Linked DNA regions of Homo sapiens. The protein of the gene in region 1 purifies or fractionates together with the protein of each later gene. This does not show direct contact. Each region holds a gene or a part of one and is shown in the gene's direction. Other genes may lie near its edges.

What was found.
Region 2: the proteins of LHX6 (region 1) and KDM5C purify together in Homo sapiens (affinity purification with mass spectrometry; 3 studies listed by BioGRID and IntAct, with this or other methods). This does not show direct contact.

What each region holds. Positions count from the first base shown.
Region 1 is NC_000009.12:122,222,458-122,225,957, reverse strand, and holds part of LHX6 (LIM/homeobox protein Lhx6), read left to right. Parts: intron 1-3,500. UniProt on the Homo sapiens protein: Probable transcription factor required for the expression of a subset of genes involved in interneurons migration and development.
Region 2 is NC_000023.11:53,194,208-53,197,707, reverse strand, and holds part of KDM5C (lysine-specific demethylase 5C), read left to right. Parts: intron 1-663; coding exon 664-1,022; intron 1,023-1,653; coding exon 1,654-1,792; intron 1,793-2,219; exon of another isoform or gene 2,220-2,297; coding exon 2,298-2,477; intron 2,478-2,639; coding exon 2,640-2,777; intron 2,778-2,969; coding exon 2,970-3,500. UniProt on the Homo sapiens protein: Histone demethylase that specifically demethylates 'Lys-4' of histone H3, thereby playing a central role in histone code. Does not demethylate histone H3 'Lys-9', H3 'Lys-27', H3 'Lys-36', H3 'Lys-79' or H4 'Lys-20'.

The sequences.
Region 1 (3,500 bases):
GGACGTCATTCATGGTGGGGTCTCTCGCGGGCTGGACGCTGAGCTGGGCTTCGGACTCTTGCCCTGGCTCTGACCCTCGCTCCGCTCTGGGTTCGAGTCTGGTCCAGCCCAAAGCACCAGCGCCGCAACCGTCTCAGATCCGATCCCATACCCAAGCGCCTCGTCCTGAACCCCAACCTCTGTCTCCGGCTCCATCTCAACTCATTCCCCGGCGTCACTGGAGTGTCGCATTCTGAGCCTGGGGTCATGCGCAGGCCCCCAGCGCCTGTTCCAGTCCCAGCTTCGCTGTTGTTTTGGCCCGACTTTGGCCTCTCCAGGGTCTAGGCCTTGCCTTTAGGCCGCCAGGATGGGAAGTGGGAGAACTGGGCACCCGGAGCCCTGAGTGGGATTACCCCGGGCTGCGCTCTCCCTACTGCAGGCCGCGTCCAGCAGCCGAGAGCAGCCAGGCGCATCCTCCTGTCCTGCCGCGTCTTGGCCACTCGCCTGGGCCTCGCTTCTAGCCATGAAGCCCGGACCTGACCTGATTATGGGGTCGAGGTCACTGCAGGGTCATGGCCTTGTCTGCTGATCCCAGTGGGAGGCATCAACTGGCCTGAGGCTTGGACCACCAGGCCTATAGGATCAGAGGAGAATGGTGGAGAATCACTTCCTGAGAGGGATGCTTGTTCCCAAGTGCTTTCTCAAAAAGTGGAGAAAGCTGCTTCCCTATAACTACCCTCCAACCCACAGACATCTTTCCTATCCTTGCACAGGAAGACGTCATGGCTTCAGTCTTCCTGGCCAGACCCCTGCCCTAGAAAGAGCCTCTGGGAGTCAGGGAATATGGTGGAAGGCGATCTCCTCCTGTGCACTGGCATTGAGCCTCCAGCGATCTGGAAAGAGAAGATCTTGAGTCTAGGGGGAGGTTGGCAGCATTTGGGGCAAGGGTACTCTGAAAACCATGAGAAGCATGGTTAAAGAGACGGACTCTTCCTTTATGGGATGGATGTAGAAGAGTGTGCAGCTGGGGTGGGGTGGGGGCAGCTCAACCAAGTGGCCTAGGACTCAGTGTGCAAGGAGTGCCTGTGTGTCTGTATTGTCTGGGATCTGTGCAGTAGTGCTGGGGAAAGCATCACTGGGCAGGGTTGGGGGTATGTAGATAGCATGTGTGTTCCTTTATGGACCAACGTTTGTCTTTTAGTTCATGTGTGGGTGTCAAGAGTGGGTGTCTGTATGTGAATGTTGAGACTGTGTGTGTGCATGTGTGTGTGCGTGCACGTGCACGCAAAGTGGTGAGGACAGGATTACATCTGGACTAGGATCTGGAGGTGAGAGGGTGAGGTGAGGGGATTCTGAAATCCCATCATTCCACTCCCACCCTCTCCTCTGAGGGGGCATTCCTGCTTAAGGGCCTCCACCCAGGCACTGAGGGATGAAGGGGGTGATAAGAACGTATTTGTGAATCTGGACGGCTGTGTGTGTGTGTGTGTGTAGTCAGACAGGGGTTAATGGTGTGTAACCAGAGTGTGATGTCTCCTCTCACTGTCCCATCTGAGTATTGGTTTGGCCAGGACAGGAAATGGAGGTTACAGTCACTGTCTAGCCACCTCCCTGCTCTAGGCCTGACTCCAGTTGGTATAAAACATGCCAGATGGGCCGGGTGTGGTGGCTCACACCTATAATCGCAGCACTTTGGGAGGCCAAGGCTGGTAGATCACAAGGTCAGGAGATCGAGACCATCCTGGCCAACATGGTGAAACCCATCTCTACTAAAAATACAAAACTTAGCCAGGTGTGGTGGCACGTGCCTGTAGTCCCAGCTACTCAGGAGGCTGAGGCAAGAGAATCACTTGAACCTGGGAGGCGGACATTGTGGTGAGCCAAGATCACGTCACTACACTCCAGCCTGGGTAACAGAGAGAGACTCTGTCTCAAAAAACAAACAAACAAACATACAAAAAAACATGCCAGATGATGCTTGGGGGCTCCTTGGATTCATCAGCTACTAAATTTAAGGTGCCAGCTTGGGAACCCAGCAGAATGGTGTCTGGGTCTCTCCCATAGACTAAGGCACCACTAGGACACCTCTCCTGGCTCTCCTAACAATAGATTTGGCAGTCTTATTCACTACTTGCCCAAATTTCTTTTCTACTTCTCCAGCCCTAGCCCATGCCCATGCTGGACTGAGCCTCCTTGGATACTGTGCTTTACTAGACCTTGAAACTAGTCAAAACACGGATCCTGACTCCACTGTTCAGAGCCTCCCCTTATTCTGGAGTTCTCTTCCTACTGCAATGGGGTAGAGAGTAGGGTGTGCAGCCACTGTGGGAAGAGGCAGGAGACTGGGCCCAGTCTGGCCAGTAGTGACCTTCGCAAGTTGCTGCTTCTCTCGGCCCTTAGTTCGCCCTTTCCAAGGCTGTCTCCCAGAGCTGCCAAAGAGGCCACTGTTGGGGGGAAGTCTCTATAAAGGCTCCCTAAATGGTGGTTGGTATGAATGCCTCGATTATCACTGTTGTCATCATTGGCAGGGTGGATGCTGGGCACAAGCCCATGATGGCATTTCCCCACGCAGCTTGAGGAGCAGAGCCTGCCTGGAGGGATGGGACTGGGCCATTTCTGGGCTGCAGGTTCTGAGCACTAATCTTTTTCCAATGACAAGAGCCCTGAAAGCAAAACTAAACCAGATTTCTGGTTAAGAAAATGGAGGCAGTAAAAGCTCACATTCCCTGGGTTGAGGGTAGAATTGTGGCTCTTCTGATCATTTCTCCCCCTGCAGGCATAACCCATCCCTGGCAGCCCCACCTGTAACAAAAATAATAAAACCCACAAAAAGGGAAAGAAAAAGCCGATCGAGTGCCAGGCAAGGACTATTGTCTGCACTGCACTGCAGCCCAAGCTCTGGGTGGCTGCTATGAGGAAGTTCTTCCTGGAGAGAGTGTGAATGGTGGCGTGGGAGGCAGAATTTTCCTCTAAGGAGCTGGGGCCCAGGGAGGGGTCACATGCTGAGGTTCTCTAGGCTTCTGTTTCCTGAAGCCCGGGGTCAAGGGTCTGGTAGGATGTGGACTGGAGCACTCTGCCCAAAGAGAGGCCAAGAGCTCCCAACGGGGCAAGGGGGAGGAAGGGAGTGGCCAAGGCCCCATGGAGGGGGAGCATGGAGATCCCATGGTCCTCTAACCTCTGGCATTTTCCCCAGGGAAGAGGGTCACCTAGGTTCTATCCCCCACCTTGTCCCTCCTTGACATCATCTTATAGACCCTCCTTCAGTCTCCATTGGCAGAGCTAGCACTGGTGGCTCAGGGAATTAAAGGTTAGGAAGGAACTCCAAGTTCACCAGGGAGAGGGTCTGCAAAGCTTAGAGAAGACATGGAGGTCCAGTGCTGCTCCTGGCTCATTTGCATTGTTGGGAGAGGTTGGTTCTCATTGGCTGCGTGTCCTTGGCCAGGCCACTGGACTCTGCCTCAGTTTCTCCAATTCACACTCTAAACAGGGTCCTTACCAACCCTTGTGCGTTTATCCAGATC
Region 2 (3,500 bases), on another chromosome or scaffold:
GCTTGGCTCCTTTCAAAAGCTTAAAGTGTTCAGGCAAGACAGGACACACGTGTGAGAAAAGAACAGGTGGGAGGGGTGAGGCAAGGGTCTAGTGACTTGTCTGTTAGAAATGGGCCTTGAGGGTCAGGTGGCAAGGGTATGGGTATAGGATACAGAGTCCAGGTAAGGTTTCCTGGAGGAGGGGTAGAGGAGAAGGAGGTAACAGGGGTGCTTGTTGGGCTTGGAAAGTGGAGGGAAATTCATGAAGGTGGAGGAGGAGTGAGATGGAGAGGGCAACAGACCCCAGGGTGGTGAGCACAAGGGTTTATGTGAGGACTAATCATAGCAATTTTTAGGGCAGGGAGGTCTCTTGGTGCCCTGAGAACAGAGCCCTCTGAAAAGTTAAATAAAGCATAGATTAATAATTATTAGTTAATTAAGAATCTCTCAGGGTGGGGCCCAGGAATCTGCATTCTTAAATTCCCCAGGGCATTCTAATGAGCAGTCAGTGTTAGGAACCCCAACTGTCTTAGGGCTTGGAGAAGGAGAGCTCAGCCCATGTTAGGCTCCTTTGCCCCAAAAGCTTGGAGGGTAAGAAGATAGGTGGGACAAGGTTCCATCTGGTGGTGGAACCCCTCAGTGGGCCCAGCTGAGGAGTTTGTTCTTCATCCTGTGTCCTGGTAGGGTGTTCTGGAACAGGTGGAGGCCTACCAGGCTGAGGCTCGTGAGGCCCTGGCCTCACTGCCCTCCAGTCCAGGGCTACTGCAGTCCCTGTTGGAGAGGGGGCGGCAGCTGGGGGTGGAGGTGCCTGAGGCCCAGCAGCTCCAGCGGCAGGTGGAACAGGCGCGATGGCTGGATGAGGTGAAACGCACACTGGCCCCCTCAGCCCGAAGGGGCACCTTGGCTGTCATGCGAGGACTGTTGGTCGCGGGTGCCAGTGTAGCCCCTAGCCCTGCTGTGGATAAAGCCCAGGCCGAGCTGCAGGAACTGCTGACCATTGCTGAACGCTGGGAGGAGAAAGCCCACCTCTGCCTGGAGGCCAGGTAGGTCCAGCTGCTGCTTCCCTTCCCTGCCCTATTCCAAACATCAAAGTTGAGTGGAGACCCAGAAGAGGATGCCCATGGGTGGCCTTAGGTATCACGCTCCTGTGTTACTGTATTGACTCTCCCCTCTTTTGTTGTCTATCTTGTCGTTTTTTTAAAAAACAACTCTGTATACTTAAAGGCAAAGAGAGGCTGATGGAGAAGCAGAAATGGACAGATAGAGATTATCTAGAAGACTAGCCCTACAGGCTAATGTGCGCATACCCAGAAGCACAAGTGACAGGCAGATGGGCAGATGTTGGTAGAAAGACCCCACACAGGGCAGTTGACAAACTGCAGCAACAGATTACACAATACAGGTTGTATATGTAGGCATTGCTAGCAGGCCAGCAGACTGGCAGACAAACAGAGGTGCAAGAGCTGTGGCAGAAGGGATGAAGTTGGGTGCATGCAGTCTTGGGGAAGCAGGGACTGGCAGCTACCCTTAGGTGGAATACAAGCAAGTAGGCCCAAGTGACAGCAGGAATAACAGACACCCAAGGGGCCCATGCAGATATATCTGGTGGTCAGGCTGGGCTTCTGGTCAGGCAGACCACATCAGACTGAGCGTTCTTTTTTTCCTTACCTTTAGGCAGAAGCATCCACCAGCCACACTTGAGGCCATAATCCGTGAAGCGGAAAACATCCCTGTTCACCTGCCCAACATCCAGGCTCTCAAGGAGGCTCTTGCTAAGGCCCGGGCCTGGATTGCTGATGTTGATGAGATCCAAGTGAGGACCCTGCCACTCCCACCCCAGGCCTTCAGTCCAGCTGGGAAGAGATGGCATATACACTGGGATGTGCTGGGTTGCTGGGATGGGTTGGGTTGGCTGGAGAGAGGAAGGGGGCATGGCATGTAGTCAGGAGGCAAGATGTGCCTGATGAGCAGGGTGAGAGGAAGAGTGTGAGGCTGGCCTGAAGGAAGAGAGGGCACTGGTTAGGATGAGATTGGTGGGCCAGGGAAGCAGGTGGTATGGGACTGAGCAGGGCAGGGGCATGGAGGAGAGGAGAAGAGGCAAACCACAACAGAAGGCTGACTAGATATTTGGGGCTGAGCCAGTCAGTAGATGCCGGTGTTGTGGGAGAGAGCCAAGTGGTTGTTCCTTAGGATGACACCTATTTTTTTAATCCCTCAAGACTGAGCCCAGTTCATCTTTCCAGCTCAGGGCCAGGCACAGAGTAAGCATCAATAGCATTGGCAAGTTGAACTGAGCTGTCTCTCGCCCTTGGCCTTAGAATGGTGACCACTACCCCTGCCTGGATGACTTGGAGGGCCTAGTAGCTGTGGGCCGGGACCTACCTGTGGGGCTGGAGGAGCTGAGACAGCTAGAGCTACAGGTACTGACAGCGCACTCCTGGAGGGAGAAGGCCTCCAAGACCTTCCTCAAGAAAAATTCTTGCTACACGCTGCTGGAGGTGAGGCCTGGGACCTTGACCTACAGCGTCTCTTAACGCCTGCCCTGGCTTCTGTGAGATGGCTCATGAGATAACATGGGTTTTGTAGGGGCACCAGGGAGGGAAGGAGGCGGGGGATGTAAGGGAAGCCCAGTCATTCCCTCTCTTGTCTGCCTGCCCCAGGTTCTCTGCCCATGTGCAGATGCCGGCTCAGACAGCACCAAGCGCAGCCGGTGGATGGAGAAGGAGCTGGGGTTGTACAAATCTGACACAGAGCTGCTGGGGCTGTCTGCGCAGGACCTCAGGGACCCAGGCTCTGTGGTAAGGAGCTTCGACACAGATGGGGAGAAGGGCTTGGTGATGATAGAGTGTCTGAGCTGGGTGGCCATGAGCAGACCGCTTGTCCCCTGAGCCTCAGTTCTCCTGGTTTGGGAGTGGGGGTGTTAAGGGGGGGCCCAGAGAAGGGAAGGGGTAGGCTGCTGACCCACTTTGCTCCTGTCCTGGGTATGGCAGATCGTGGCCTTCAAGGAGGGGGAACAGAAGGAGAAGGAGGGTATCCTGCAGCTGCGTCGCACCAATTCGGCCAAGCCCAGTCCACTGGCATCATCGAGCACGGCCTCCTCTACAACCTCTATCTGTGTGTGTGGGCAGGTGCTGGCTGGGGCGGGAGCTCTGCAGTGTGACCTGTGTCAGGACTGGTTCCATGGGCGGTGTGTGTCAGTGCCTCGCCTCCTCAGCTCTCCGAGGCCCAATCCCACCTCATCCCCACTGCTGGCCTGGTGGGAATGGGACACCAAATTCCTGTGTCCACTGTGTATGCGCTCAAGGCGCCCGCGCCTGGAGACCATCCTGGCACTGCTGGTAGCCCTGCAGAGACTGCCTGTGCGGCTGCCCGAGGGCGAGGCCCTGCAGTGCCTCACAGAGAGGGCCATCAGCTGGCAAGGCCGCGCCAGGCAGGCTCTGGCCTCTGAAGATGTGACTGCTCTTTTGGGACGGCTGGCTGAGCTCCGCCAACGGCTACAGGCTGAACCTAGACCTGAGGAG